Linked DNA regions of Homo sapiens. The protein of the gene in region 4 interacts with the protein of the main gene of each other region in a biochemical or structural test. Each region holds a gene or a part of one and is shown on either strand. Other genes may lie near its edges.

What was found.
Region 1: the proteins of PML (region 4) and KLHL20 form a complex in vitro, tested with the Homo sapiens proteins (3 studies listed by BioGRID and IntAct, with this or other methods).
Region 2: of the proteins of PML (region 4) and SENP1, one has a biochemical effect on the other in vitro, tested with the Homo sapiens proteins (2 studies listed by BioGRID).
Region 3: of the proteins of PML (region 4) and RNF4, one has a biochemical effect on the other in vitro, tested with the Homo sapiens proteins (3 studies listed by BioGRID, with this or other methods).

The regions. Positions count from the first base shown.
Region 1 is NC_000001.11:173,709,788-173,718,781, forward strand, and holds the start of KLHL20 (kelch-like protein 20), read left to right. Parts: upstream 1-5,193; 5' UTR 5,194-5,291; exon of another isoform or gene 5,292-5,683; coding exon of another isoform or gene 5,684-5,867; intron 5,868-6,215; coding exon of another isoform or gene 6,216-6,256; coding exon 6,257-6,279; intron 6,280-8,994. UniProt on the Homo sapiens protein: Substrate-specific adapter of a BCR (BTB-CUL3-RBX1) E3 ubiquitin-protein ligase complex involved in interferon response and anterograde Golgi to endosome transport.
Region 2 is NC_000012.12:48,041,847-48,047,787, forward strand, and holds the end of SENP1 (sentrin-specific protease 1), read right to left. Parts: intron 5,217-5,941; coding exon 5,132-5,216; intron 4,606-5,131; coding exon 4,510-4,605; intron 3,539-4,509; coding exon 3,476-3,538; 3' UTR 1,051-3,475; downstream 1-1,050. UniProt on the Homo sapiens protein: Protease that catalyzes two essential functions in the SUMO pathway.
Region 3 is NC_000004.12:2,471,187-2,479,444, reverse strand, and holds part of RNF4 (E3 ubiquitin-protein ligase RNF4), read right to left. Parts: intron 1-8,258. UniProt on the Homo sapiens protein: E3 ubiquitin-protein ligase which binds polysumoylated chains covalently attached to proteins and mediates 'Lys-6'-, 'Lys-11'-, 'Lys-48'- and 'Lys-63'-linked polyubiquitination of those substrates and their subsequent targeting to the proteasome for degradation.
Region 4 is NC_000015.10:74,018,174-74,026,431, reverse strand, and holds part of PML (protein PML), read right to left. Parts: intron 3,605-8,258; coding exon 3,024-3,604; intron 1,576-3,023; coding exon 1,505-1,575; intron 1-1,504.

The DNA.
Region 1 (8,994 bases), on a different chromosome or scaffold from region 4:
TGCCCAGCTAATTTTTAATTTGTTTGTAGAGACAAAGTCTGCCTATGTTGCCCAAGCTGGTTTCAAACTTCTGGGCTCAAGCAATACTTCTGCCTGGGTCTCCCAAAGAGCTGGGATTATAGGCATAAGCCACCCTACTAGGTGTTTTCTTAGCACCCAGTAGATCACTTTCAATTACCGCAATCGTAATTAAACAACTAATTATGTAATTCATGGTTCAATTTTATACTGTCTGTCTCCTCAAGAATAAAAATTCGCTGGGTGTGGTGGCTTATGTCTCTAATCCCAGCACTTTGGGAGGCCAAGGTGAGAGGATCACTTGAGCCCAAGAGTTCAAGACCAGCCTGGGCTACATAGTGAGAACTCGTCTCTACAAAACAAACAAACAAACAAAATAGCTGGGCATTGTGGAACACTCCTGTGGTCCCAGCTACTGAAGAGGCTGAGGTTGTTACCGGTGGTGAATCCATATGGGTCTGCAGCAGCCTCAATTCTTGCCTCCTCAGAAGAAAGAATTTGACTGAGGGGCATGAAGCAGAAGAGATGGAGGCAAGTTTTAGAGCAGGAGTCAAAGGAAGGAAAGTACATGTGGAACAGGTCCAAGCAGGCAACTTGAAAACAAGTGTGAAGTTTGACCTTCTGACTTAGCATTTTATATGCTGGCATGCTTCTGGGGTCTTGCATCCCTTCTGCCCTGATTCTTCCCTTGGGGTGGGTTGTCCGCATGTGCAATGGCCTGCTAGTGCCTGGGAGGGGAGCATGCAGAGTGTGTTTACTGGAGTTGTACACATGCTCACTTGAGGCGTTCTTCCCATTCTGGTGGAATGCCCCTGGAAGGTCATATACCAGCTAAACTCTGCCATTTTGCCCTTTAATGCACATGCTGGAGCCCACTCACCCAATTCCTGAGATCTTATTGAGACGCTGCCACCAGTTTCAGGTGTTTTTATCTACTGGGAAACTGCCTTTCCCTGGTGCTGTTTGCAACCAATTATTATATTAGAGAGGCAGCGTGACAACTGCCTGACCATCACCCGATGGTCACCTGACATTCCTGGTGAGGTGCGGGAGAAGCCCTCTCCTGCCTTGCACATGCCTGGCTAGCCACCTACTGTAACAAGGGGAGAGGATCACTTGAGCCCAGGAAGCAGAGGCAACAGTGAGCTGTGATTGCACTACTGCACTCCAGCCTGGGTAACAGATTGAGACCCTACTTAAAAAGAAAAAAAAAGAAGAAGAATGAAAATTCCACAAACAATGGGCCCTGTGGGTCTCACCTACAACTAAACCTTAGGTCCAACCACTGTATTTTATACATTGGAAACAAGATATAATTTTTGATTGAAAAACTATAAGGTAAGCTCAGCAACCCCTGAAAAGAATTATTTGGCTGTTGTCACTACCTCATACCTGTGAACCCCGAAAATCTGAGACAGGTCTCAGTTAATTTAGAAAGTTTATTTTGCCAAGGTTGAGGATGCACCTGTGACACAGCCTCAGGAGATCCTGATGACATGTGCCCAAGGTGATCAGACCACAGTTTGGTTTTACACATTTTAGGGAGACATGAAACATCAATCAACATATGTAAGATGAACTTTGGTTCCGTTTGGAAAGGTGGGACAACTCAAAGCAGGGAGAAGGCTTCCAGGTCATAGGTAGATAAGAGACAAATTGTTGCATTCTTTTAAGTTTCTGTTAGTCTTTCCAAAGGAGGCAATCAGATATGCATTTATCTCAGTGAGCAGAGGGGTGACTTTGAATAGAATGGGAGGCAAGTTTGCCCTAAGCAGTTCCCAGCTTGACTTTTCCCTTTAGCTTAGTGATTTTGGGGGCCCAAGATATTTTCCTTTCACACACCCAATCTAAATAAAATCTATTTCATGTGTATTTTCCACTAGAAATTCAGGCTCCCGAAGGGCATAGTCTTACTCAGGTGGCAGAAAAACTGTAATTACTGCAAATGCCAGGTTTACCATAAACACATCTCTAAATGGAGTTCTCTAGGTCTTGACATAAATAAAAAGGGTTGATTCACACTGAACTTCTCCACTTCAAAAAGAAACAGAGTAGCAGAAGCACAAACCAGATTGCAGTGGGTTGGGGAGTGAATCACAGATATACAAAAATAGGAGGGACTGCTCTTATCCTGGACAGGAGTTTTAAAATCAGTCTTTGGTTAGCAGCATTTTTAGTAACATTTTTATACCATATAGTAACATTTTCATACCTATACTATGAATTATAAAAATAGTTTAATTCATATTACGGAAAAAATAGGAGTCACTTTGAAGGTATCTTTTACAATAAGCAATTCACAGAAGGGAAATCTGAATGCCACTTTCACATATGAAAAATGTTTGAACAGTAATGAGAGAAATAAACATTTAAACCACAGTGAATTACCATTTTATACCCAACCAATTGGCAAAAACAAATTTAAAGTTGGAAAACACCAACTGTGATGATAATATAGACCAACAAAAACCCTCAAACACTTGTAATGGAGAGACAACACAGCACTGTAGCTGAAAGCACAGACTCTAGAGCCATTGTGTATGGTTTCAAGTTATTGCTCTACTTCATAACTAGCTGTGTGACTTTGGGCAACTTACATAACATCTTGGTGCCATCTGTGAAACTGGAATGATGATAATAGATCCTACCTCGAGAGGACTAGTGTGAGTATTGATGAGTTACTATAACATGCTACATAAGTATTTGCTAGTATTATTATTACTGAAATAGAATAATGACTTTAGAGAGCAATTTGACTAGTGCTAATACAGTTGAAGCTGTGCATAGCATACAACCCAGCAATTTTGCTTCTGCGTGCACACCCCAAAGAAACACCTACAGGTGTACACAAGGAGGTATATGCAAGAATTTACATTGTAGCACTGTTTGTAATGGAGAAAACTGGAAATAGTCAAAATATCCATCTGCAGAAAAAAATGTTTTAAAAAATCTATGGTATATTCATATAATAGAATACTATAAAGCAGTGAAAATAAATAAATTAGTGCAGTAGTTCTCAAATTTTACCATGCACTATAATCACCTGGAGAACTTGTTAGAACACAGATTACTGGGGCCCACCTTCAGTTTTTGATTCAATAGGTCTGTAATGGGGCTCAAGGGTTAGCATTTTCCAAGTGATGTTGATGCTGCTGGTCCAGGACAACACTTTGAGAATCACTGAATTGGACCTTCATTGATCAACATGGACAAATCTTACAAACAGAATGTTGAGTGGAAAATGGAAGTTGCAAAAGAATACATATGCTTTGATACCATTTATGAAAAGTTTTAAAATATGGAAAAGAAATCATTTTACTGCATATGTATATATATCACATATACACATGCAGTAAAAATTTTCAATAAGATCACAAAGCTAGTCAGTTACAGGTCTAGGATTTGTACCTATGTGTATCCGTGAAATCGCCTTTGCAAACTGAAACCCCCTTTGCAAAAATTCTATCAGTGAGAAAATTATAGCAGTGGAGGAGATCTGATCTAGCCAAACCCCATCTTGCCTTTAGCTTTCAGTCTGTCCTTAATTATTCCTGGGCTTAAGCCAAGATAACTTTGGGAGACATTTAGTTTAATAGTTTAAATAATTACAGTCCTTCCCCAAAACTCAATTGCCTTTGTAAAGCTAATGAGAGACCACCAGACAACGGGGATAGATGAGCCTGAATTCTGTTAAGTGTAGACATAAGTGATTGCCAGCCATTATTCCAGAGGTCACAAGATATGCAACTTCCCCAATTACTCCTACAGATAACATCACTATTGTAGAATCTAGGATTGGCCTTTTTGGGTATATTTTTAAGTTTTTTGCATGTTTGACTACTGATGGCTCCACCTGGACCCACCAACTGTTCCTGTGGCTCCACCCAGAAACAACTCAGTAGGCAGGAGGACCATCTCCCATACCCCTATGACTGCACCAGTCAGCAGCAAGCACCCATTGCCTAGCCACCCCTACCCCTTTCCCCAGACTACCTTTGAAAAGAAACCTAGCCCCCAAATGCTCCAGGAGGCCGATTTGAGTAATAATATAACTGATTTGAGTAATAATAAAACTTCTTCCATTTTTCCACTCGATGTTGTGTAAAACTCTTTCTCCATTGCAATCCCTATACCTTGATAAATCATCTGTATCTGGGCAGCAGGCAAGAAGAATCCACTGGGCCACTATATCTGGATCTAAAGGCCATGTATTTTCCACTACAAGCTAATTAACAAGAGGTATCCTTTCCCCTCAGAAACAACTGGACACACCTGTGTAGATTCTACATAAAGAACAGCTAAAGAAAATCTGGTTAATACTTAGCCTAGTATACTTACCAGGAAATCAGCAACAGTCTTTCTCTGATATTCCTGAAATTGTAATCCCCACCTTACACTTGTATCACTTGTTTTCTAAATATTAATATACGGTAAAAATCAGGTGGCTGTGTGCTATGGGAAAATCTGGAGGAAAAGATAATTTTAAAAATATACTTTTTTGGCTCTGCTTGCTACTGAAAAAAAATTTTTTTAAGAAAATATACTCTTCCCTCCTTAACATTAAAGTGAATCCACAGAAGATGTGTTTGGTGAAGTGTCTGGTGGTGAATACTAAGTAGAAAGGGCAGACTAACACAGCCTTAGAGCCTGGATAAAATCCTGGTGTCCTGAAAGTTTGACCGTGGGAAATCTGGAGGATAAGGTCTATCTCTGGTCTGTCTATCTAACTTCTGCACCTTGCACATAGTAGAGGCCTGACAGATACATGCCAACCCATGTGTGCATGCAATAATTCAATCCACAATTAGGAACATTGTGCCAAAAGGAGACCCACCAACTAAAAAGAAATACAAATTCTTAGCTTTCTGTGACTACCCTTTACTGCCTTTGCTGGCGAAAACAAAGAAGAAAAGAGGAGGCTTCAGTATTCAAATACTGCCAGTTCCGCAGTGAATTCTAAAAATGGTTACTCTTGGGATACAAGGAACCCCCACGAGGATAAACAACCTCTGAGGTTACCTGAATGCCCCAGCAAAGGGCACGACTACTTCCGGAGCCGCACCGGAACCCCTTGGCGGATTATGTGGGTTCCTGCGGGAACGATTTAAGAATAGGACTACTTCCTGCTTCTGGATATGGGCCGGTGAAGGGAAAGGAAATAGCTCTACGAGCGGCATCCTGCCTGCGTTAGCGGCGGTGGAGGAGGAGGCAGAGAGGAGTGGAGGGCGGAGTAGACGGAGGAGGCTGCTGCAGAGAAGAAAGTGTCAGAGCCGGTAAGTGAGCCAGTCACCTTAGAGCAGGGGACAGCGGACAGCGCCCCAGGGCTCGCTTCGCAGATATGTGGTCCCAAGTTGCTGAGCTGCCCCATGGGGTCAGGTCGGTCGCCTGTCAGTCGGCGCCGAGAAGAGACTGTTGGGGCGCTGGGGCCGGGCCTCGCGGAGCGCCAGAGTGCGCTCTCGCTGGCTGACAGCCTATCTCGGGAGCCAGAGGAGGCCCCGGGCTTTGTCCTGCCTGGTGGTGCTGGGGTTTCGCATCCTGGACAGCTTCCCCAGACAGTGTTTGGAATTCAGGGAAGGAAGAAAGTACGTGCGCCCCCATTTAACCCTCGGGACCTGGCGAAATCCTGCTACGTGGGTAGTGAACATTGTATCGGGGACTGAAGGAAATGCTTGTAAAGAGTGTTAGTCTGGAGCCATACTTTCCCTGCCCTGTTCAAGCTCCCTGGACTGTCGGAAGCGGAGTTGTTTGTAAAGGCAAATGCAGACGCCTCCTCCTCCTGTCACTTCGGGACAAGTTAACAATCTTCAGATTCGTTATTAAAGCCTCGTGTACCCTATGTGATCTATCAGGTTAGTACTGCTGTGGGTATCTGGTGCTTGTTCTGTAAATATACTTGATGTCGAGATCACAGTTAAATATCTCCAAGCACTTTTTGAAGAGAAACAAGACTGACCTAACAGTCGGGACTATTTAGCATACTTTCCCTCACCTTTACTTTAATCGTTTTAGCATGCAGAGTAAGGATGGTAATCTTAAATGTACTAGATTAAGTTATTGTGCATCTGCAGAAGGCCTGTGGTATAATAGGATATGAAACTCTTGATAACTGACGAAATGAGTGAAATGATTATATAAAGATTGTTACTGTAAAGATCAGAAATAGCTTTTATTAAGTTCCTGCTTTTCTGTTGTCTTAGGTTCGGCTTTAGAGTGTGGTGAAGGGTACTTTTCATGGTGCATGGAAGGAAAGCCAATGCGCAGGTAGGCATTTAGGAAGAAAACCTTTGGTTTCACTGATTAAAATTCAGCATGTAATAATTTAAATTTTTAAAAAAGAGTTTCAATCTTACTAAATTCTGCTTGGAACTAATGAGTCTTGTTCTACAATAAATCAAAAGTAATATTAAGAATTAATAGCTTTTTAATAGAATAAAATACAGAAGTTGTTTCTGAAAAGTGCTGTGGATTGTATGTAGTGCTAAACACTTAAATTTTCCTTTTTTCATGTTTTTTACAGTAAATAATCATTAAGTTCATTATGATACTATATGGATTTATTATAATCTTCAGTTCCCTATAAAATGTAGAGGATTCTGTTCCCATGTAAGAATCATAATTATTTATAATATACTGTACTGCATGCCTAATTATGGTTTTGGTTATTTCCTTGATGTTCAATCATACATTTGTTCTGTTAATTAAAATAGCTGCATTGTAGGGAAGATTGTATAAGGACTAAAATAGGTATTAGACATAATAACTTAGTCCATAGAAAAATAGAACAATGTCTGGGAAAATATAGACAATAAATAGGCCCTCCCAACCCTAGAATTTAATAATGTTTTTTCTCATTTTGTTCTAACAAATGAGACTAGAATCTTTATGATACAAAATCATCCCAGTTCTATTTCTTTGGTTTTTACATTTGTTTTCTATTTATTGAACTCTATTTAATCATTTGTTATTTAACATCAAAGATAAACAACTTCTGCAGTTCTTTTAAGAGAAGAAACATTTTATAATGGGAATATGACTTATAACTCAGAACTTGGAGCAAGAACCAGAATGTATATCTTTATCCAAATCTGTTATTGGTTTATCAATTGACCTTGAGCTGTTCACCTTCTCTGTACCCCAGTTTACTTCTTTAGTGTATCTGATCAGGATATTGGGGATTAATGAACATTTGCAAATGCTTTAAGATCTCCAGATGAAAAGATGTTATCAAGATGAAAAATACCATTATCTTATTTATATTTTACTCTGTAGTAGGAATAATATTTTACCACAATGTACATGAAAAAATTAACAACATAATATTAAATACTTCATCCCTTTACTTCTAACATTATTGCAAAACCCACTGATTGTGTCTCATCTCCAGCTACCATAAAATGTCATATCTTATATAATTGCTAAAATAAGAGCTTATTATTTTTTAAAAGAATAGCAGAGTGTGGGAATGTTTTTGGTTTATCAGTAGTCTATATAAAATATTTGCTTAATCACTCATACCTGCTCCTTTTTTCTTGCTTTATTACATAATACTGTCAGCTATTCAGAATCATGCTGGATAATTCTAGTGCTGTTAATCGTTAAGCTACGGCTCTTTCTTCATCACTGTCACTTGGCCAGAGCCTAGCCTACTCACATTGGTCTCTGGTCTTACTTTCACCTGCTTCCTACATTCAATCATGGTCACACTTCCCTATCCTTTTCTTATTGGGCTGTCATTTTTGCTGATTTAACCCAGAAGGCAGTCTCTGTAATGCTGGGTTTATACTCAGTTGCTATTAAAGAAGCTTTGAGAAGTAACTTTTTATATTGAGACTATTTGAATACATGTTCATTCTGTCTACTAGATTGTGAGCTCTTTTAGTCTCATGTCTTCCTATATTTGCATCACTAGCACCTAACGATTACTGAATAATTGTTTGAATAGGACTGAACAGTTTCTGCAGACTTTCCCCCTCCAAAAAACAAAAAAAATCTATGAACAAGACTGAAAATTATTGTTAAAGGTATTCTAATTTTTGATTATAAAGTTTTATGAAATCAATTGGCATTTTATTAGTAAAGTTTCATTACCTCATTTATTTATGTACTATCATTTGCATAGCACAATGCAAAATTTAAAAGATACAATAGGATATTCAGTGAAAAGTTAACTCTCCCATTGCTGACCCCAGTTCCCAAAGGCAACCACTGTAAGCAGTTTCTTATGCATTCTTTTAGAGGCATTGTAGTTCATACACAAATGTATATAAGATGTCTTCTCTTTTCACTTTTTTAATTTCTATTTTGTAGATACAGGGTTTTGCCATGTTGCCCAGGTTGGTCTCAAACTCCTGGGCTCAAGCAGTCCCCCTGCCTAGGCCTCCCAAAGTGTTGGGATTACAGGCGTGAGCCACCACACCTGGCTAACATTAGTAGCTTTTAAAAAGAAAAGATGGCTAGGCACAGTGGCTCACACCTGTAATCCCAGCACTTTGGGAGGCTGAGGTGGGCTGATCCCTTGAGCCCAAGAGTTCAAGACCAGCCTGGGCAACATGACAAAACCCCATCTCTACAAAAAGGAAACAAGAAAAATTTAGCCAAGTGTTGTGGCAGATGCCTGAAGTTCTAGCTACTCAGGAGGCTGAGGTGAGAGGATCACTTGAGTCTGGGAGGCAGAGATTGCAGTTAAGCCGTGATCATACCATTGAACCCCAACCTGGGCAACAGAGCAAGACAGTGTCTCAAAAAAAAAAAAAAAAGACACAAATGTTGTAGGGCATAGTGGTTCACACTTGTATTCCCAGCTACCCAGCTACTTAGGAGGCTGAAGCAGGAGGATTGCTTGAGCCCAGGAGTTCGAGGCTGTGGTGATCATGCCACTGCACTCCTGCCCGTGTAACAGAGAGAGACCCCATCTCTTTAAATAAATAAATAAAAATAAGAAAATGCATTTGAAAGGACACTGTCAGTATATCATGC
Region 2 (5,941 bases), on a different chromosome or scaffold from region 4:
GTGTAAGGTATCCTTTATTTTAACAGGTGACCAGCATAACCCTCTGTCCCACGTTTCCTTTTCCACCTTCAAAGCTGGGAATGGTAGTGTGTGTTCTTAGTAGACAGATGTTAGGAGTCAGTACAGGTAAAACAAGGCCCTAGACTTATAATAAAGGATGCTGGGATGAGCCTTGTCCCTTCCCATGGAATTCCAAGCTGTAGATGCATTGCTCCTGGGCGGGAAAATAAGGTACCCTTCCCAGTAGTTCAGCACGTGGCCTGTTTAACAATAGGGCCTAATAGCCTAACACCTCTTTTTCTGACTCTCTTGGGTATGTGAACTCCCAGGGTGAAAGCATCATATTCCACCTCATGCTAGTCCATCCAGGTGGACCAAACAAAAAGAAACCCCAGGTGTCAGTCCTCTCTCTTACTCCAGCAAGACATATTTAAAAGCTGGAGGGATGGCACAGGACCAGAAACTGAAACATTAAAAACATTGGGGCTCTCAAGTGAACTCTTCCCCCTTTACCCACTAGAGCCACTTAAGGGCCATGTAAAACCAGGCAGTAATGGACAGGCTATGAGATGGGGTTGGTGGAAGTGCTTTTCCAGGTTATCTCTGTTTCTACCTCAGGATCTTGGTGCTAACATTGCTGGGGGCAGTGGATAGAAGATGCTAGCATGATTACAGTGGCTAAAGAATACAGAAATTAATTCCACATAGAAGTATGAAGCATCTCATACAGAGGAGTCAATTGACACAAATTCCCCAGACTGGATGAGGGAAAAGTACTCTTATATTCAACCCTAAATAGGACTCCTGGGAGCAATGGTGGGTCCCAGGTGACAAATGGGATGTAACTAGCCTCTGTGCCTCAGACCATGTGTTTCTCAAATGGGTAAGAAAGGTCTGTCTGATATTCTCTGTTCAGGGTCTCGGAGTGATTCTTGGGATTATGGTTTCTGTTGAGGTCTCTATAGCTGGCATCTAGTGCTTATCATCCCTCAAATATTCCTTTTTTAGGGAAGGCAGGTGAATATGAGCAGTGGACACAGGAGAAAGGGGAACACAGGAGAAAAAAGTCTTATTTAGTTTAAAGTAAATTACATAAGATATTAATAACATGCCTTTGGGCCATAAAATGCAGAAATACCTTTTTTTTTTTCCTGGTCATCAAAGCCTACCCCTAAACAAAGGGGAAAGTTTCCAGATACTACTCCTGCTCTTGTTGGCTAGCTCAGGAAAGAATGGTCCACTGTGTAAGTCTGTATTTGGACCAGGTCCAGGGTGGTAAGATGGTCTCAGGGTCACTAACTTCTACCTTGTGCAAAACTGCATTAGTCAGAAAGGGGGCCCAAATTCAGACAGGCTCAACAATTCCTTATATATTTTTCAAAGTGCTTTTGTTGCATGTTTCATTTTCTGCTATACATGGCAATAAATATTTGTTGCTTTGGTCTGTACAAAGTCTGTGAGGAAGGTAAGACAGATGTTACCTAAATGGACAAACAATAAATACAGAGAACAATCTTGTTCTGAGTCCCCCAGACAATAGTGAAAGAACCTGAAAAAGGTCTTTTGATTCATAGTCCAAATCGACACCATATTGCCACCTTTCAAGTTGTTGCTTACATACAGTAAATACCAAGAACCAGACAATATTCCAGGAGTCCTGCAATGAGACTGCATGCCACAGCTTTCTAAAAGAGAATGTGAAGGTCCCCAGCAACTCATATATAGAAAGCTATTTATTTCCTATAGAAAACTCAAAAACAAAGAAAAAGAAAGAAAAATAAAGAGAGATAGAAAGAGAAAGGGAAAGAAAGAGAGAGAAAAAACAAACACACAAAAGGTGGTCTTTCCCCAAAAGGCAGGCAGTTGAAGGGAGGACATGTAGTTGCTGGAGTGGAAACAGTAACATTCAGTTAACAATGGAATATTTAAAAAAAATAGTTTTCTTTTCAAATTGTAACTTGTGGTAAAACATAGAAAAATGTACTAAACGAGCTTGTATAAAACAGTAAAATTTTCAAATAAGCCCAGGGAAAAAGCACAATGCTGGAAAGAATGCGGTACAACGGGAGAGGAGAAAAGATTTCATACAAAACTACCTATTACAATACAGAAAAAAGTATAAAATGTTCCTACTTTGGAACTTAAGTACAAAATGACACTGGCATTTGATCACTTCACTATCTAAGCCTGAGGAGCTCTCAGAGGGTGGGGAGAGATGCTAGAAAGAACAAAAGGAATAGCAGTTTTTAAATCTCAAGTTGATCAGTCCAAACTCCACCCGTTTTTTTTTTTAGCTGAAAATATCACCTCCCTCTGTAACCTCTACCCATATGGCAAAGTTCATCCAGGCCTCAAAAATATTCCATTAGGTAGTCCACAAACACCCTACTCATAGGGGCTGGGATCTCTGTGTGCTGGAATTTGGAAAATGGAAATAAATCTACAGGCTAAATGGTGAACACATTCAGTCTTTAAAAAAAAAAGCATATCCCTGTGAAATTTTATACATACATATATATATATATATATGTATGTGTATATATATATGTATATATATATGAAATTCTCTGTGGTTAGAAACATATTTAAACTAGCCACAGACCAAACTAGATCTGCATTCATCCAGCGCTGGAATTTTATGCTAAATACTAAGGTCCTTTTTCTTCTTGGTCAGAAGTAGGCAACAGTAAAAGTGGTGCTTTGTTGCGCCACTGAAACCGCTCCCTGGGTGGGTCTTCCCCGTATCATGTGTTGGTAGCACATGCAAACCCCTGCTTTCACGGAAAGGACTGCTTGGAACTTTGGGACCTGTCCAGGGCTCATGTGCTGTGCCTCCGGATAGGATGAAGCTACAGATGATAAAACAGCTACGTATAAAAGCAGATGGATTTTGTATAGGGACATATAAATAGGAAAGGTCCTGGAGGAAGGGACTTATGCCTGGGCCCCAAAGTCCAGTTTACAGTCACATTCCTGACCATACATCGTGAAAATTGTGTGTGTGTGTGTGTTTGTGTGTGTGGGTGTGTGTGTATGTCCATGTATATGCTGGTGGTTTTTATCCCTACCTTTTGCCCATGCCCTTTCCTACTTCTTAGTAAGGCCTAACAACAAGAATTTATATGAAACCAAGATTCTTTCCAAGCTTTTCTCAGTCCCATAATTAGGGACTGAGTGAGGCTGGAGCCCTTTGAAAACAAGATGGCAGAACTGAAGAAGTGAAAAGCAGTCTCTCTCTTCAGCTTAGGGATGTCCCTCACCCCTTTCACAGCACCAAAGTTTCTTTGCAAAAATAGTATCTGAGATACAAAAGGAAAGGCAGATGTGCTTGTGAATGCATCTCGCCAGGGCCTGGTCCAGGATCAAGGGTGTTACAACAGCAGAGGGCTGGGAGCAGCTGTTTCCAAGGTCTCTGGCTGTAGACAACAAAGAGCTGGTCCCCCACATGGTCAAGGTCTGCTAAGTGAGACAGTCTTCACAAGAGTTTTCGGTGGAGGATCTCCCAGACCATCCGCTTCCGGAAGTATGGCATGTGTTGCTGTAGGGACACAGAGACACCCTTAATTTTCAATGCTTTTGTCTAGACCTGATACGCCTTTCCCCATACTTCTTTCTTTTGCAAGGTTTTCAACAAACAGTCTCAGTTGTATTTCTGGTCTTTTAAATTATTCATTCTTGGTTACATGTAGTTTTTTTCTTTTCATTGCTTTTTCTATTGTTATTTTTCACCATTATAGCCTTAGAAGTTACACTGGGTATTTCCAGGAATCCCCAGGCTATGCCCACGTCTCTAAGAATTTTGAGAATGGTGTCTAATAAGTCTTCTATGTTGAACTTTTAAGAGGATATGAGCCTAGGCCTAAAAATAAAAAATTCACCTTTTAGAAGAATTAAGGGAACTTGAAGAGTCAGCTCAGGCTGGTCTAGACAAAGGGCTATGGTAGAAAAATCTGGTAAAGTCACTGATTCAAACAGAAGTAAAAGTGGAGAACACATCAGAATAAACCATAATCTCTAATCTCAATCCACTTTGGTCTGAGAGACCACATGGACAGAAATGACCAATCACTCTCTAAGAGAAGACTGACCAGATTCATCAAGTGAGGGGTCAGGGGAGGGGGCAGCATAACAAATTACACTAGGAGATTGAGGTATGGCCTATTCCCAAACCTGACTACTAACGAAATGCAAGGGAACTAAAGAAACCTGCTCTGGTCCCAGTTCTCTCTAGAAGTTACAGTAGGTAGAGGAGACAGGCAGAGAAGGTTCTGCTCTTGAAACCTTTACTACAATAACTGAGGTGTGGTAACCCAGGACGTGGCTTATCACTAATTTTCTTTCTTTTGTGATGTGATTCAGGTAGTAACCATCAGTGTTATGAATCATGGGCTGAAGCATGCTAAAGGTTAGGGTAGAGGCCCCTAAAGAGAACAACTGGAGAGAAAAACATCTACAGGGCAGCTTGGAGACAAAGTAATCCTAGAGCTCCCTATGGAAGGCTCAGCTCACCTGTGTGAAGTTGATTGGTCTGTCTTTGGTAATACAGTCAGCATATTTGCAGGCAAACATCCCACAGTCACTTCCATTCATCTGCTGAGGAATCTCCTGGAAGACCAACAACAAAAAAAATGACATCTTTCCAAGCTTCTTTCCTTCTTAGATTAAAAATAAGAACCAAAAGATATAAATTGTACAGGTTTCTCTAAATTACAAACAGATGACTCTGGCCCCCCAGTCAGGACAACAGAGGCTCAAAGAAACAAAATACAACATTCCAGTCAGGTCTGTGTACTCTGTATTAATCAAACAGGAGAATATCTCCGACTCCCATGGCACCTAAGGGTATAAAAACTGCTCCCTCCCCCAGAGGCCAAATAATCAGCAAACATTCCCCTTAGGAGTGAAAAGCTTAGTAAAATATCTGGGCATTTAGAAAACCTAGTTCTACATAAGAAACACACTATCACTTTTCCTACGGATAGCTTAATTTATCCTCCCCCAGAAACCAACCAACCAAGCTGAAGTCAGGCTAGACACGAACACAGGTGGTCCCTGGGAATTAAGCAGTAAAATTCTTTCCTCCCCAAATACCCTACTTTTAGGACTTTTATTTCATCAAGATGAAAGGTACCTGGCTTTTCTTGCTGAAAAGCTGCCAGCCATTGGTGTCAAACTCTTTCCTTTTCTTGTCAATGCTTTCTTGCTTTAGGTATTGCCTAAAGGTATCAGGAGAGAATGAGATAAGCAGTGGGGAACATCGATGACAGCTGCCACACTAAGAATGGGGCTGACAATACCTAGGAACAAATTTGTTTCATCTGCTCTTCTGAGGAAAAGAGTATATAATACTGGGCAGGGAATCCCTGGATTGTTAAGTTTTCTCCAGAGCTGAGCATGCCTCTTCTAGCTTGTCTCTTCTAATGTCCACTCTGTCAACTCAAAAGGAACATGACCTCTGCCTCTAACAGTTAAGCTCCTTCTACCTACCATTCCTTCTGAGGAACAATTCTTTTTATTCTTTTCCTTGGTTTATATGGTCCTTTAGAACTCAATCTAATGGAAGAAAAGTGTTTTTCTGGTACTATTGAGGTATTTATTTACTACTGTTAGGCTTGGCTCTCCTATCTAAAAATTAAATCCAAATCAACAATGTATTGAGTGCATACCTTCAATAGAGCTCTCTTTTAAGTGCAAACTGTTCACCATTGTGGAATGTACTTCCTCCTGGCCATCAGAGTGGTACAGTGAGGAATAGGTATTTTGGAAAATGAAACAGGTGGAGCATAAAGAGATTTGCATTCTGGTCCACCTGAGCCACTAACTAATAGGACCTGGGCAAATCAAAGGCACCTCTGTGGGCCTTGGTCTCTTCATCTGAAAAATTAGGAGGTTGGATTAAATGATTTCTAAGTAGCATCTATATCTTTATATCTAGTCTACA
Region 3 (8,258 bases), on a different chromosome or scaffold from region 4:
CACATGTGGAAATTCAAGATGAGATCTGGGTGGGGGACACAGCCAAACCATATCATTCCACCCCTGGCCCCTCCCAAATCTTATGTCCTCACATTTTAAAATAAATCATGCCTTCCCACAGTCCCAAAGTCTTAACTCATTTCAGCATTAACTCAAAAGTCCAAAGTCTCATCCGAGACAAGGCAAGTCCCTTCCACCTATGAGCCTGTAAATCAAAAGCAATTTAGTTACTTCTTAGATACAACGGGGGTGCAGGCATTGGGTAAATACAGCCATTCCAAATGGGAGAAATTGGCCAAAACAAAGGGGCTACAGGCCCCATGCAAGTCCGAAATCCAGCAGAGCAGTCCAAATCTCAAAGCTCCAAAATGATCTCCTTTGACTCCATGTCTCACATCCAGGTCACGCTGATCCAAGAGGTGAGTTCCCATGGCCTTAGGCAGCTCCACCCCTGTGGCTTTGCAGAGTACAGCCTCCCTCCCGGCTGTTTTCACTGGGTGGTGTTGAGTGTCTGCAGCTTTTCCAGGTGTACAGGGCAAGCTGTCAGTGGATCTATCATTCTGGGGTGTGGAGGACAGTGGCCCTCTTCCCACAGCTCTACCAGGTGGTGCTCCAGTAGGGACTCTGCTTGGGGGCTCCAACCCCACATTTCCCTTCCACACTGCCCTAGCGGAGGTTCTCCATGAGTGTCCCGCCCCTGCAGCAAACTTCTGCCTGGGCATCCAGGTGTTTCCATGCATCCTCTGAAATCTAGTGGAGGTTCCCAAACCCTCATTGTTGACTTCTGCGCACTCGCAGGCTCAACACCATGTGGAAGCTGCCAAGGTTTGGGGCCTGCACCTTCTGAAACCACAGCCTGAGTTCTACTCTATGTTGGCCCCTTTTGGCCACAGCTGAGACGGCTGGAACGCAGGGCACCAGGCCCCTAGGCTGCACACAGCAGGGGAACCCTGGGCCCAGCCCAGGAAACCATATTTTCCTCCTGGGCATCTGGGCCTATGATGGGAGGGGCTGCCATGAAGGCCTGTGACATGCCCTGGAGACATTTCCCCCCACTGTCTTGGGGATTAACGTTTGGCTCCCTGTTACTTATGCAAATCTCTGCAGCTGGCTTTAATTTCCCCTCAGAAAATGGAATTTTATTTTCTAGCACATTGACAGGAGGCTGCAAATTTTCCAAACTTTTATGCTCTGCTTCCCTTATAAAACTGAATGCCTTTAACTGTACCCAAGTCATCTCTTGAATGCTTTGCTGCTTAGAAATTTATTCTGCCAGATACCCTAAATCATCTTTCTCAAGTTCAAAGTTCCACAAATCTCTAGGGCAGGGGCAAAATGCGGCTAGTCTCTTTGCTGAAACATAACAGGAGTGACCCTTGCTCCAGTTCCCAACAAGTTCCTCATCTCCATCTGAGACCATCTCAGCCTGGATTTCATTGTCCATATCCTTATCAACATTTTGGTCAAAGCCATTCAACAAGTCTCTAGCGAGTTCCAAACTTTCCCACATTTTCCTGTCTTCTTCTGAGCCCTCCAAACTGTTCCAATCCCTGCCTGCTACCCAGTTGCAAAGCTGTTTCCAAATTTTCAGGTATCTTTTCAGCAGCATCGCACTCTACTGGTACCAACTTACTGTACCAGTATGTTTTCACGATGCTAATAAAGACATACCTGAGACTGGGCAATTTACAAAAGCAAGAAGTTTACAAAAGCCAGTTCCAAATGGCCGGGGAGGCTTCACAATCATGGCGGAAGGCAAGGAGAAGCAAGTAAGTCATGCCTTACATAGATGGCAGCAGGCAAAGAGAGCTTGTGTAGGGAAACTCCCCCTTATAAAAGCATCAGATCTCTTTTGTTTTTTTAGATTAAGTCTACTCTGTTGTCCAAGCTGGAGTGCAGTGGCATGATCTCGGCTCACTGTAATCTCCACCTCCTGGGTTCAAGCAATTCTCCTGCCTCAGCCTCCCAAGTAGCTGGAACTACAGGCATGTACCACCATGTCCAGCTAATTTTTGTATTTTTAGTAGAGACAGGGTTTCACTATGTTGGCCACACTCATCTTGAACTCCTAACCTCGTGATCCGCCCGCCTTGGCCTCCCAAAGTGCTGGGATTACAGGCATCAGCCACCGCCCCCGACCTAAAGCATCAGATCTCTTGAGACTTATTCACCATCATGAGAACAGCATGGGAAAGACCTGCCCCCAAGATTCAATTGCCTCCCACTGGGTCCCTCCCACAACATGTAGGAATTCAATGTGAGATTTGGGTGGGGACACAGCCAAACCATATCAGCACCTGTATTCCCATTTACTTGGGACACTGAGGCAAGAGGATTAATTTAGCTTAAAGTTTGAGGCTGTAGGCAGGGCATGGTGGCTCATGCTTATAATCCCAGCACTTTGGGAGGCTGAGGCGGGCAGATCACCTGAAGTCAGGAGTTCAAGACCAGGCTGGCCAACATAGTGAAACCCTGTCTCTAATAAAAATACAAAAATGAGCTAGACGTGGTGCTGCCCACCTGTAATCCCAGCTACTCGGGAGGCTGAGACAGGTGAATCACTTGAACCCAGGAGGTGGAGGTTGAAGTGAGTTGAGAAAGAACAAGATTCTGTCTTTAAAAAAAAAAAAAAGTTTTAGGCTGTACTGTGCTATATAATTGCACCTGCAAATAGCCACTGCACTCCTGCCCGGGAAACATAGGAAGACAACCTTCTCTTAAATTAAAAAAAAAAAAAAAAGAAAGAAAGAAAAGGGCTGGACGTGGTGGCTCACACCTGTAATCCCAGCACTTTGGGAGGCCGAGGTGGGTGGATCACAAGGTCAGGAGTTCGAGACAGGCTGGCCAACATGGTGAAACCCCATCTCTAGTAAAGATACAAAAAATTAGCCAGCCGTGGTGGCACATGCCTGTAATCCCAGGTCCTTAGGAGGCTGAGGCAGGAGAATTGCTTGAACCCGGGAGGCAGAGGTTGCAGTGCTGAGATCGTGCCACTGTACTCCAGCCTGGGTGACAGAGCAAGACTCCGTCTCAAAAAACAAACAAAAAACAAAAAAACACAGATGATCATGATGGGAGAATAGGAGAGAACATTTCTACCTGAGGCATTTTCAACTTTTCAACTTGCAAGAGTAGGAGGCGAGAACCAACACTGGAAGACATCAAGAAGGTACTTACAAGGGAAGCAAATTTTAGTGCAGGTAACACAGAATGCTGCCATATTTAGGAGCAGAATTTAGCAGTAGTTTGGCTAAAGTAAGAGGTGAGGTGTGGCAGACAGGGAAATGCCTAGGCCCTAGGACAACTTCCCTTAGCTGGTGAGAGGAGAAAACTTAGGAAAAATAACTTTGAGGAATACAATACAGTTACTGAGAATCAATAAATTTTCTTGAGGATAATTATCAGACTCCTCTGCGGTGAAAGCAAAAATAAAGATACTATTTTGTTTTTACTATTTGAAGTTTCTAGAAACATTGGCCATGTGCTTTCCCACCACACAAAAAAAGCAGATGACATAACAAAGCCTAACAAAAGGAACAAAGGTAGGAGTCAGGGGTGGGGTGAAGTTTCGAGCTCTGCTTACTAATTGTGTGACCTTGGGCAAGTGACCCTGATCTCCCAGTGCCTCAGGAAGAGTAAAATGGGGCTAACTACAACAACTATCTTATAGAGTGGTTCTGTAAGAGAGTAAGAAGTAGGGAATCACTCAACCATAGATATTAAATCATGAGTCTGGAGTCTGAGACCAGCCTGGACAAAAGGGCAAGACCCAGTCTACAAAACTTTGTTAAAAATTAGCCAGGTGTGGGCCAGGCGAGGTGGCTCACGCCTGTAATCCCAGCACTTTGGGAGGCTGAGGCGGGTGGATCTTGAGGTCAGGAGATCGAGACCATCCTGGCAAACACGGTGAAACCCTATCTCTACTAAAAATACAAAAAATTAGCTGGGCATGGTGGCACGTGCCTGTAGTCCCAGCTACCCGGGAGGCTGAGGCAGGAGAATGGCGTGAACCTGGGAGGCGGAGCTTGCAATGAGCCGAGATCGCGCCACTGCACACCAGCCTGGGCGGCAGAGTGAGACTACATCTCAAAAACAAACAAACAAACAAACAAAAAGCCAGGTGCGGTGGCGTGCGCCTGTAGCCCCAGCTACTTGGGAGGCTGAGGTGAGAGGATCTCTTGAACCCAGAAGTTGGAAGCTGCAGTGAGTTACGATCGCACCAATGCACTCCAACTGGGGCAACAGGGAGATATTCTCTTAAAAAATAAATAAAAAATGCTAATGATCATTTGAGTCTTCACAAAGTTGTAATATTTTTGCTGGTGAAGGGTCTTGCCCTGATGATGGCTGCTCATGGATCAGGGCAGTGGCTAATGAAGGTTGGGGCAGCTGTGACAGTTTTTCTTTTTCTTTTTTTGAGATGGAGTTTCACTCTTGTTGCCCAGGCTGGAGTACAACGGCGCAATCTTGGCTCACCGCAACCTCTGCCTCCCTGGTTCAAGCAATTCTCCTGTCTCAGCTTCCCGAGTAGCTGGGATTACAGGCATGCCCCACCACGCCCAGCTAATTTTTTTGTATTTTTAGTCGAGACGGGGTTTCTCCATGTTGGCCAGGCTGGTCTGGAAGTCCCAACCTGAGGTGATCCGCCTGCCTCGGCCTCCTAAAGTGCTGGGATTACAGGCGTGAGCCACCGCACTGGGCCAACTGTGACAATTTCTTAAAATGAAGTTTGCTGCATCAGTTGTCTCTTCCTTTCATGAAAGATTTCTCTGTAGCGTGCAATGCTGTGTGACAGCATTTTACCCACAGTGGAACTTCTTTCAAAATTGGAGTCAATCCTTTCAAACCCTGCCACTGTTTTATTAACTAAGTTTATAAAATATTCTAAATCCTTTGTTATAATCTCAACAATGTTCACTGCACCTTCAGCAGTAAATTCCACCTCAAGAAACCACTTTCTTTGCCTGTCCACAGGAAGCAACTCTCCATGTGTTCAAGTTTTATTTAAAAATTGCAGCAATTCAGTCACATCTTCAGGTTCTACTTTTTTTTTTTTTTTTTTTGAGACAGAGTCTCGTTCTGTCAACCAGGCTGGATGGAGTGCAATGGCGTGATTTCGGCTCGCTGCAACCTCTGCCTCCTGGGTTCAAGCGATTCTCCTGCCTCAGCCTCCTGAGTAGCTGCGATTACAGGTGCGTGCCACCACACCTGGCTAATTTTTTTGTGTGTTTTTAGTAGAGACGGTGTTTCACCGTGTTAGCCAGGATGGTTTCAATCTCCTGACCTCGTGATCCGCCTGCCTTGGCCTCCCAAAGTGCTGGGATTACAGGTGTGAGCCACCTTGCCTGGCCCTTTTATTTTTTTGAGACAAAGTCTCACTCTATTGTCCACGCTTGAGTGCAGTGGCCCGATCTTGGCTCACTGCAACCTCTGCTTCCTGGGTTCAAGCAATTCTCCTGCCTCAGCCTCTGGAGTGGCCGGGATTACTATGCAGTAACAATCCCACTACCACGCTCAGCTAATTTTTGTATTTTTAGTAGAGACAAGGTTTTATCATGTTGGCCAGGCTGGTCTCCAACTCCTGACCTCAGGTGATCCATCAGGCCCAGCCTTCAGGCTCTACTTTTTTTTTTCTAGACAGAGTCTCGCTCTGTCGCCCAGGCTGGAGTGCAGTAGTGTGATCTCGGCTCACCACAACCTCTGCCCCTCCAGGTTTAAGCAATTCTCTGCCTCAGCTTCCAGAGTAGCTAGGATTACAGGCGTGCGCCACCACGCCCTGCTAATTTTTTGTATTTTTAGTAGAGACGGGGTTTCACCATCTGGCCAGGCTGGTTGTGAACTCCTGACCTCGTAATCCACCCGCCTAGGCCTCCCAAAGTGCTGAGATTACAGGCGTGAGCCACCAGGCCCGGCCAGGCTCTACTTCTAATTCTAGTTCTCTTGCTATTTCCACCACATCTACAGTTACTTTTTCCATTGAAGTCTAGAACCCCTCAAAGTCACCCATGAGGGTCAGAATCAACTTTTTCCAAGTTCTTGTTGTGTTAATTGATTTTTTTTTTTAAGACGGAATCTCACTGTTGCCCAGGCTGTAGTGCAGAGGCACAATCTCGGCTCACTGCAGCCTCCACCTCCTGGGCCCAAGCGATTAACCTACCTCAGCTCCTCAAGTAGCTGGGACTACAGGAGCGTGCCACCATGCCTGGCTAATTTTTGTATTTTGTTGGTAGAGACGGGGTTTCACCATGTTGGGCAGGCTGGTCTCAAACTCCTGACCTCAGGTGATCTGCCTGCCCCAGCCTCCCAAAGTGCTGGGATTACAGGCGTGAGCCACCGTGAACTGCTGATGTTGATATTTTGACCTCCTCCCATGAATCACAAATATTCTTTTTTTTTTTCTTTTTTGAGATGGAGTCTCGCTCTGTTGCCCAGGCTGGAGTGCAGTGGTGCTATCTTGGCTCACTGCAAGCTCCTCTTCCCGGGTTCACACCATTCTCCTGCCTCAGCCTCCCGAGTAGCTGGGACTACAGGTGCCCGCTGCCAAGACCGGCTAATTTTTTGTATTTTTAGTAGAGATGGGGTTTCACCATGTTAGCCAGGATGGTCTCGATCTCCTGACCTTGTGATCCGCCCACTTCGCCTCCCAAAGTGCTGGGATTACACGGGTGAGCCACCGTGCCTGGAGACAAATATTCTTAATGGTATCTAGAATAGTATATCCTTTCAGGAGGTTTTTAATTTACATTGTTGATACCCATCAGAAGAATCACAATCTATGTAGCTGTAGCCTTACAAAATGCATTTCTTTCTTTCCCCCTGCCGCCCTTTTTTTTTTTTTTTTTTAAGAGACTGGCAGTGGAGGGGGTGGTCTCACTATGCTGCCCCGGCTGGTCTCTAACTCCTGAGCTCAAGCGATCCACCAGCTTTGGCCTCCCGAAGTGCTGCGAGTACAGGCATGAGCCACTGTGCTCAGCCTCAAGATGCATTTCTTAAGTAAGATTTGAGAGTTGAAATTACTCCTTGATCCATGGGCTGCAGAACAGATGTTAACATTAATCTTACTCATCTCCATGAGACCTCTTTGGTGACTAAGCACATTCTCAATGAGCAGTAATATTTTGAAAGAAATCTTTTTTTCTGAGCTGTAGATCTCAATAGTGGGCTTAAAATATTCAGTAAAACATACTGTAAACAGATATGCTACTATACAGGCTTTCCTGTTTCAATGATCAGCACACAGTAGATTTTTGCATACTTCTTAAGGGCCCTAGGATTTTCAGAATGGTAAATGAGCACTAGTTACAACTTAAGTCACTGGCCACACTAGCCCCTAACAAGAGAATCAGACTGTCCTTTGAAGCCAGGCATTGACCTTTCTCTAGCTATGAAAGTCCTAGATAGTATTTTTTTTTCCATATAAGGCTGTTTCATTTACATTGAAAGTCTGTTGTTTAGTGTGGCCACCTTCATCAATTATTTTAGCTATATGTTCTGCATAACTTGCTGCAGCTTCTTCATCAACACTTACTGCCTCACCTTACACTTTTACATTACAGAGGTGGCTTCTTCCCTTAAACCTCATGAACTAACCTCTGCCAGTTTCAAACTTTTCTTCTGCAGCTTCCTCACTCTTCACAGAATTGAAGAGAGTTAGTACCTTGCTCCGGATTAGGCTTTCGCTTAAGGGAATGTCATGGATGGTTTGATCTTCTATCCAGACCACTAAAACTTTCTCCCTATCAGCAATAAGGCTGTTTGGCTTATCATTCATGTATTCATTGGAGTAGCATTTTAATTTCAAGAACTCTTCCTCTGCATTCACAACTTGGCTAACTGTCATTCAGCACAAGAGGCCTAGCTTTTGGCCTATCTCAACTTTTGATACGCCTTTCTCACTAAGGATAAACATTTCTTAACTTCACTTAAAGTAAGAGAGATTCAACTGACTGCTCCTTTTGCCTGGACACTGTAGGGTCACTGACTGGCCTAATTTCAATATTGTGTCTCAAGGAATTGAGAGGCCTGAGGAGAGAGACTGGGAACTGCCAGTCAGTGGAGCTGTTAGTACACACCCAACTTTTACCAATTAAGTTCACTGTCTTATATGAGTGCTATTCATGGTAACCCAAAACATTGATCACAGGTCACTATAACAGATGTAACAATGAAAAGGTTTGGGGCTGGGCATGGTGGCTCATGCCTGTAATCCCAGCACTTTGGGAGGCCGAGGCAGGCGGATCACTTGAGGTCAGGCGTTC
Region 4 (8,258 bases):
TTGGGAGGCCGAGGCGGGCAGATCATGAGGTCAGGAGTTCAAGACCAGCCTGGCCAATATGATGAAACCCCGTCTCTACTAAAAAATACAAAAATTAGCCAGGCGTAGTGGTGCGCGCCTGTAGTCCCAGCTACTCGGGAGGCTGAGGCAGGAGAATGGCTTGAACCCCGGAAGCGGAGGGTGCAGTGAGCCGAGATCACGCCACTACACTCCAGCCTGAACAACAGAGCGAGCCTTCATCTAAAAAACAAACAAACAAACAAACAAAAAACAGAGTCAGCTTTTAATCTTGCCCCTAATTTGCTGTGTGTAGCCTTGGGTAAGTCACATCCTTTCTGGGTCTTAGCTTCGTCCTCTGTGAAAAAAAGGGGGTTAGACTCCATGCTCTTGCCTGGCTCTAAAACTCTGAGACTCTTAAGTCCTGTCTCTTCCAGGAAGCCTCTCCTGATTGCCTCAACCTACAGCACTCTCTCTCTCCTATGGGTCATGCCATGGCAAAAGCTAGGCCCCTACCCACCACCAGAAGACCTGCTGTCCATGAAGGACTGGCCAGTCCTGGGCCAGATCCTTGATAGGCTAGGCGCATGCAAACCTGAGTGACTAGGCTAGGGAAGAGACCAGATGCCAAGTCCAGGAAGAAACCGAGGATGCTTATTCTGGTGGAAAGGAGCCATACTTGTGAATGCCAAAGGGGGCAAGTCAAAGGGACACCACTGCATTTCCACTCGGAAAAGCACTTTCTAAGTCAGAGCAGTCCAGAGTTGGGAGCAGCTGCCTCTAGAATGAGCAAGCTTCCTGTCCCTGGAGATGTGTACATGAAAGCTGGACAGCCACAGGTCAGGGGTGCTGCAGAAGGAATGCCAGCATTAGATGGGACATGGATACCTTGAACCCTGAGACAGTCTGCTTTGTTACATGTATGGTGGCCCTGGAATCACACCAGCAGAACCCGGGCAACTGGGATCGAAATCTGACTCCTGGCACCATTCCCCGTTCCTTTCCAAGAACCATCTGTGGGGAAAGAGCAGGGGAAGGCCCACCTATTCTGACTCCAAGAGAAGGCTCCCACATTGGGGGTAGGGTGTAGGAGGGGAGAGGACATCTGCACATCCCTCAGGACTGCTGACCCTATATCTAACCATACATCTGACAACCATAGTTTCTCATGGCTGGAAGGCACTAATATGCCATCTAATGCTGGAATTCCCTCTGCAGCAGCCCTGATCTGTGGCCGACTGTCTACCCCACATCTAACCCCCACTGAACCTGGCTCATGGCCCATCAAGAGCAACTTTGGCATTTAGGAGCCTAGAGTCAGAGCCAGCTAGCCAGCCAACCCTTCTTTAATGTCTTCCTTTACTTCCTCTCACTGAAATTTCCAGTCCAGCCACTTGCTGTCCCTCACTCAGACGCTCTCCCTGCACACACAGGGACAGCAGGACTCACAACCTGCCTGACCTGCTGGGCCCCACCACCACCCCTTCAGACCTCAAACCCATCTCACCAGGTCAACGTCAATAGGGTCCCTGGGAGTGCTGGCAGCCTCTGGGCTGGCTTTCTTGGATACAGCTGCATCTGTAGAACACAAAGAAGGTCACAGGCAGGTCAAGGACATGCTGGTAAGGGACATCCTGACCTGGGACAGTGATAGAGAGGAGGTCCCTGTTGCTTTTCCAGGATACCTATTTTCCAGGGCATCCCAAAGCACTGGACAACTCCCTGGAGGGGCAGCTGGAAGGAGAGCTCTCTCGAATGCAGTGGGCAGGAACCCAGCCAGAAGGGAAAAGGAGGTGGCATTAGAGTGCTTGCTTTTGGCTCCAAACCCCAAGTGTACCTCTCTCCATCTCTGAGCCAACAGCAAGGCTAAGTGTGCGCAATCATAAAGCCATCACTACCGGCTCACTGACTCTCTACATATAGTGAGAGCTCCATGATCTTCCTTATCTGCAGCCTGGTTTTTATTAAATCTAAATCTCTTATGCTTCAGAATAAAATAACCCTTCTCTCTGCTATTGCCCAGTTATAACACCCAAGGCAAGCTGTGTAAACTCTGTGGGGTCATTTCCTTAATATGGGTGACATTCACTACCTAGGTGGAGAAGGCACAGGTCCAGGCCCTCTAAGATTATCCTTCATGACCCATGTCCAGCTCCAGGAGAAGTAAATAAGCTCTTTGTCACTGGCACCCTACCCAGGTGCCTTCAGATTCCATAGCCTCCCTCCCCTTTCCCAGTAAGGGCATCCTATACTAGCTGCTCAGAGCTCACATTCCAGCTTGGAGATTTAGTCAAAGACTCCTGGAGACTCTCTGGCACACTCCCCCTACCCCTTATTTTGAAAGCCCCCCTGTTCCAGCTAATACACAGCTGCTACATCTCCCGGATTTGGATTGCAGAGCTGAGCACTGTCTCATTCTCCAGCTACGTGAAGTGGCTCTGGCTCCTTGAGATCAGAAACTAGTCTGTGTCTCCTTACCTCTCAAGCGTCCAACACTAGGCAGGGCGCGCAAAGGTTGGCAGACAGCAGGTCATCCTGCAGACAAGGGATCTCCTCCACTGAGCCACTGTATGGTTTTGGGTAAGCATCCAACCATCCCCAGGAGGTTTTCTTAGCCCCCTTCTACCGTAACCCCAGGTCCCAATTGACTTCTCTGTTCCGAGACACCGGTGGCTTAAGAGAACCTCCTGAAGTGCTTGGTCCCTCTGGCGCCAAAATGATACTGGGTCTGATTCTCAGCTTTGCAGTTTTTCAACTTTCACGTGTTCCCCATGAGTCATCGCTAGGTCAATCCACAGAGTCTTGTAAATTAGTAAAATGTGTCCCCTCTGGGTGGCTGCAGCCCTTTGTCAGGGCCTCATCTCCCCCTTATCCTGTGCCCTGGAACCTAAGACCTTACCAACCCCCAAAGACTGAATAAACACCCAGTTTTCTTTTCTGTCAAATGGAGATGATCTCTTCTGACTCGCCTTCCCTAGGGTGCAGCAGAGGCACAGGCCGCCCAGGAAGGTGGCGTGCGTGCTTACCTTTCCCCTGGGTGATGCAAGAGCTGAGGTCCTGCAGGCGCACCTTGAACTCGTCGAAGCCATCGGTGCGCACGGCAGCTTGCAGGCTCTGGGGCTCCTCCTGGCGCAGGCGGCAGAGCGCCTGGCGCAGGAAACCGTGCATGTCCAGCACCTCCTGGTCCGAGGCGTAGCACTTCATCCTCTGCACCAGCGCGCTGCCCGTGCGGATGCGCTGCAGCACAGCATCCAGGCGGCCCAGCCGACTGGCCATCTCCTCGTAGTCGCGCTGGTACCGCGCGTCCACAGCCTCCAGCAGCTCGCGCTCCTGAGCCCGCACGTGAGCTACCACCTGGCGCACGCGCTCGCGGATCAGCTCCTCGGTCTCGGCACGCGCGCGGCCCAGCTGGCCGACGGCCGCGTGCATCTGCGCGTGAACCGCGCCAAAGGCACTATCCTGCTCCTGCAGCGCCTGCGTCATGGCGTCCAGCTCCTCCTGTCGCTGCTGGATCTCTGCGCTGATGTCGCACTTGAGCTCACTGTGGCTGCTGTCAAGGAGCGCGCACGAGCAGCACAGCGGCTTGGAACATCCTCGGCAGTAGATGCTGTGGACACACAAGGTTGGCCTGGGTTAGGACTCTCCTGACTTTTTCCTCTTAAAACGTTCGTTATTAAATTCCTCTTCCAAAAATACCAGACTTTGAATCATGGCATGTTTCTAGGTTTCTGCTTTTCCTAATTCAGTGTTTGTGGTTATGGTGATAGTATCCAAACTACCAATAACACATGAGTATAAAAAGTTACTACAGTAACAATTTCAACATCCGGGAAACAATACAAAGATATACGAAACGACAATCATCTCTTTCCACCACTTCTGAATTTCCCTTCCCCACCGAGGAAGCACCAGGTGAGCATCGTGGGGTGCACCCTTCCACACATCTCTCCACTGAAACCGCCTTACACAAATGCCAGACTGGGCTGCTGCTTGCAGGATGGTACAGACTTGACACATGTCAGCCATGCCACTTAACCTTTGCAAGAGCCCCTTGAGTGAGAATTGTCGTTATACATATTTCCCAGAGGAAGAAACAGAACATGTTAAATGATTGACCTAGATATCTACAATAATTTTGGGGGCTGATGTTTGTTCAAAAAAAAAGAAAGAAAGAAATCGGCCGGGCGCGGTGGCTCACGCCTGTAATCCCAGCACTTTGGGAGGCCGGGGCGGGAGGATCACCTGAGGTCGGGAGTTCAAGACCTGCCTGACCAACATGGAGAAACCCCGTCTCTACTAAAAATACAAAATTAGCCGGGTGTGTTGCCGCATGCCTGTAATCCCAGCTACTCAGGAGGCTGAGGCAGGAGAATTGCTTGAACCCGGGAGGCGGAGGCTGCGGTGAGCCCAGATGGTGCCATTGCACTCCAGCCTGGGCAACAAGAGCAAAACTCCGTCTCAAAAAAAAGAAAGAAATAAATCAAGTCATATAATTACTTTGAACTTCCTCCTCTCAACGAACTTTCACTCAGAGCATTCCTCTAGGTGCATAGGCACAGATCAGATGTATTCTCTTTAATAGCTCTGGTATATCCCAGATGGGCCACAATTGATTCAATCACTGTCGTTTTGCTGGCATTCAGGTAATTTCCTGTTTGTGCATTTTCTTTCTTTCGTTTTCCTTTCCTTTTTTTTTTCTTTTGGTGCCAATATGGACAACACTTTAGTAATATCCAAGTTATATAGCCTAATCATGGAAGCTTTTGTTCCTATGAAATAGATTATAAATATAGGCCTGCTAGATCAAAGTGTTTGTATTTTAATATTTTTATTTGGTTATTTTTTTTTTGAGATGGAGTTTCGCTCTTGTTGCCCAGGCTGGAGTGCAATGGCACCATCTCAGCTTACCGCAACCTCTGCCTCCCGGGTTCAAGCAATTCTCCTGCCTCAGCCTCCCGAGTAGCTGGGATTACAAGCATGCGCCACCACCCCGGCTAATTTTGTATTTTTAGTAGAGACGAGGTTTCTCCATGTTGGTCAGGCTGGTCTTGAACTCCCGACCTCAGGTGATCCACCCGCCCCAGCCTCCCAAAGTGCTGGGATTACAGGTGTGAGCCACCGTGCCTGGCCTGGTTAATATATTTTAGCTAGCAGATACTTCCATAGCATTTATTGTGTCTCAGATACTATTATAAGCATTGGCAAATATTTACTCATTCAATCCTCCTGACAATCCAGTGGAATAGATACCATTATTATCCCCATTTTAAGGATGAGAAAACTGGTGCAAGAGGCAAAATAATTTGTTCAAGATCACACGATTAGTAAGTGGTAGAGTCTAGATGCAAACTGTAGTAGCAGAATAGTGGCCTCTAAAGATGTCCACGTGCAAATTCCTGAGACCTGTGAATATGTCACCTTACTATGGCAAAAGGGTCTTTGCAGGTGTTATTCAATTAAGGACTTTGAGATAAAGAGATTATTCTAGATTATCTGGGTGGGTTCAACGTAATCACGTGAATCCTTTCAAAGGAAAGGGCAGGGAGGCAGGAGAATGAGAGGAGATGTGATGTGATGAATGCAGAGGTGGGAATGTTGTGATGTTGCCGGCTTTGAAGACAGAAAGGGGCCATGCACCAAGGAATGTGGGCAGCCTCTAGAAGCTGGGAAAGGCAAGAAAACGTTCTCCCTGAGAGCCTCCCAAAGGAGCAAAGCCTGCTGACACCTTTATATACCTCAGTGAGACCTGTTTCAGACTTCTTACCTCCAGAACCATAACAGAATACATTTACATTGTTTTAAGCCCCTAAATTTGTGGTAGTTTGTTACAGCAGCGAAAGAAAATATAAAAACCCAGGCAGTCCAGCTTAGAGTCCATGTTCTTAACCATTACAAGGCTGCTTCTTCAAATATTACCAGGGAAAATACTGTTAGTTCCCCAGAAATATTGCTGTAATTTACTCTCACCGGCAGTGATAAGAATAAGTCTTGGTGGTGTGCGCCTGTAATCCCAGCTACTTGGGAGGCTGAGGTGGGAGAACTGCTTGAACCCAGGAGGTGGAGGTTACAGTAAGCCAAAATTGCACCACTGTACTCCAGCCTGGCCAACAGAGCAAGACTCCATCTCAAAAAAAAAAAAAAAAAAAAGGAATAAGTCAGCCCACCTGAGGCCAGAAGAAAGGGTCTCATCTGGGACTACACTGAGATCAACTTGTTCTGGAACCACCAACAGAGAGCCTACTAGCCAGCCAGACTGATACATAGTGCTCATCAATGCTACGTTTAATTAGAAATACTAAGCAATTATGAAAAGAACTAATAACTCTACAGAAGGCAATTTGGCAATACCCATCAGAATTACAAATGCATTTAACCCAGCAATCCTCTTTCTTTGGATCTGCTCTGCAGCTCTATCTCTACACATAACAAGATGATATCCATACAATATATTCACTGCAGCACAGTCCACAATAGCAAAGAATTAGAAGCCACCCACGTGTCCCTCACAAGGCAATTAGTTACATAAATTATGATCCACCCATACAACGGAATACTATGTAGCTGTAAGCCATTGAGGAAGCTCTTTATATACTGATAAGGAAAATTCTCCATGGAGAAATGAGGTTAATAATAGGAGTACTGGAAGGATTAAATGAGTTAATATATGGATAAAAGTTTGAAAAATGACTGGCATACAATGAGTGTTCAATAAATGCTAACTATTTGTATTATTATGATATATATTTTAAGTTAGAAATCAAGGTGCAGAAATGTGTGTATCAGATGCTACCTTTTGTGTAAGAATGGGGAAAAATAAGAATATCTTCATAGTTGATTGTATTTGAATAAATAAATATTAAAAGGACATGCAAATTAATAAAAGTGGCTATGGGATGGGTGGAATGAGGGTAGAGTAAGACATTCACTGCATACCTTTTTAGATTATGTTTGAGCCTTGTGAATGTATGAATGTATTCCTTTTTTTGAAATTAAAAAACAGAATACTAATAAATGTGGGCAATTCTATAGGGTATAGGAATAAAGGGAAGAGAATAAGAAACAGTTGTTATTTTCCCCCTTTGGATCTTGGACACTTGGGGAGAGGGGCTGTGTCTGATGTTGGATCCCCTTCCTTGGAGACAGGGTTCCAAGCCTGGAAGGGCACGCCTCAGGCAGCCTGGCTGGATAGAGAGCAAGACGTTCTGGATGGCCATAGCCTCCGCTGGGTCCTTTTTCTAAGCTTCTTTTGTCCTGAATGGGGTCTCCCTAGGGTGACTGGCCCCTGCTTTCCCTCTAGATGGAAATGGGCGGCAAGTGTCTGTGAGGTGGCTAGCCTGAATCAGACACCTGGGTCTAAAAGCCCCCAGCCCTCTGGTAAGACTGAGGTGCAGATCCTGAATCAAAGGGCTGCCACCCAGGGCCAGGAATGACCTTAGCCAAGCGGTTCCTTTACCTTCATTCAGAGGACACTCACTGAGTACCTGCTGCGTGCTTGGCACTTTGGAGGAGGCAGAGGTGAAGTGGGAAACTGCCCAGAAGGGCTCCGTGACAAGAACCCAGACTTAACCGTATCTTCAGAAAGGCGAAATAACATCTATTTGCTTCTGGAATACTCAAAACAATAAGCAAAAACACCACTAACTTAATAAGAAATTGCTCACCAAAGTGGCTAGATTACATAATAATTAAGAAAGAAAAATAGCATAATTCTATCTTAGCAAAGCAAATGAGAAGAAATATGGGAAAAAAATCCATCTTCCCATTCACAGCAGCTATTTAAAAAATTCTACAAAGCCATGATTGTGTGCCTATAGTCCCAGCTACTAGGGAGGCTGTGGTGAGAGGATTGCCTACACCCAGGAGTTCCAGGCCAGCCTGGGCAACTCAGCAAGAACTCCATCTCTAAAAAACTTTTTTTAAATTAAAAAAAAGAAGGTACAAAATACCTAGAAAATGACAAAAACCTACTAAGAGATAAGACTAAATATTATAAGATTATTAATTCTCCTTGAGTTAATAAACAGGTTTAAGGCAATTTAAATTATTTTTGAAACTTAACCAAAGTATTCTAAATTTCTTTTCTTTCTTTTTCTTTTCTTTTTTTTTTTTTTTGAGACTGAGTCTCACTCTGTTGCCCAGGCTGGAGTGCAGTGGCACAATCTTGGCTCACTGCAATCTCTGCCTCCCTGGTTCAAGTGATTCTTGTGCCTCAGCCTCCCAAGTAGCTGGGACTACAGGTGTGAGCCACCATGCCTGGCTAA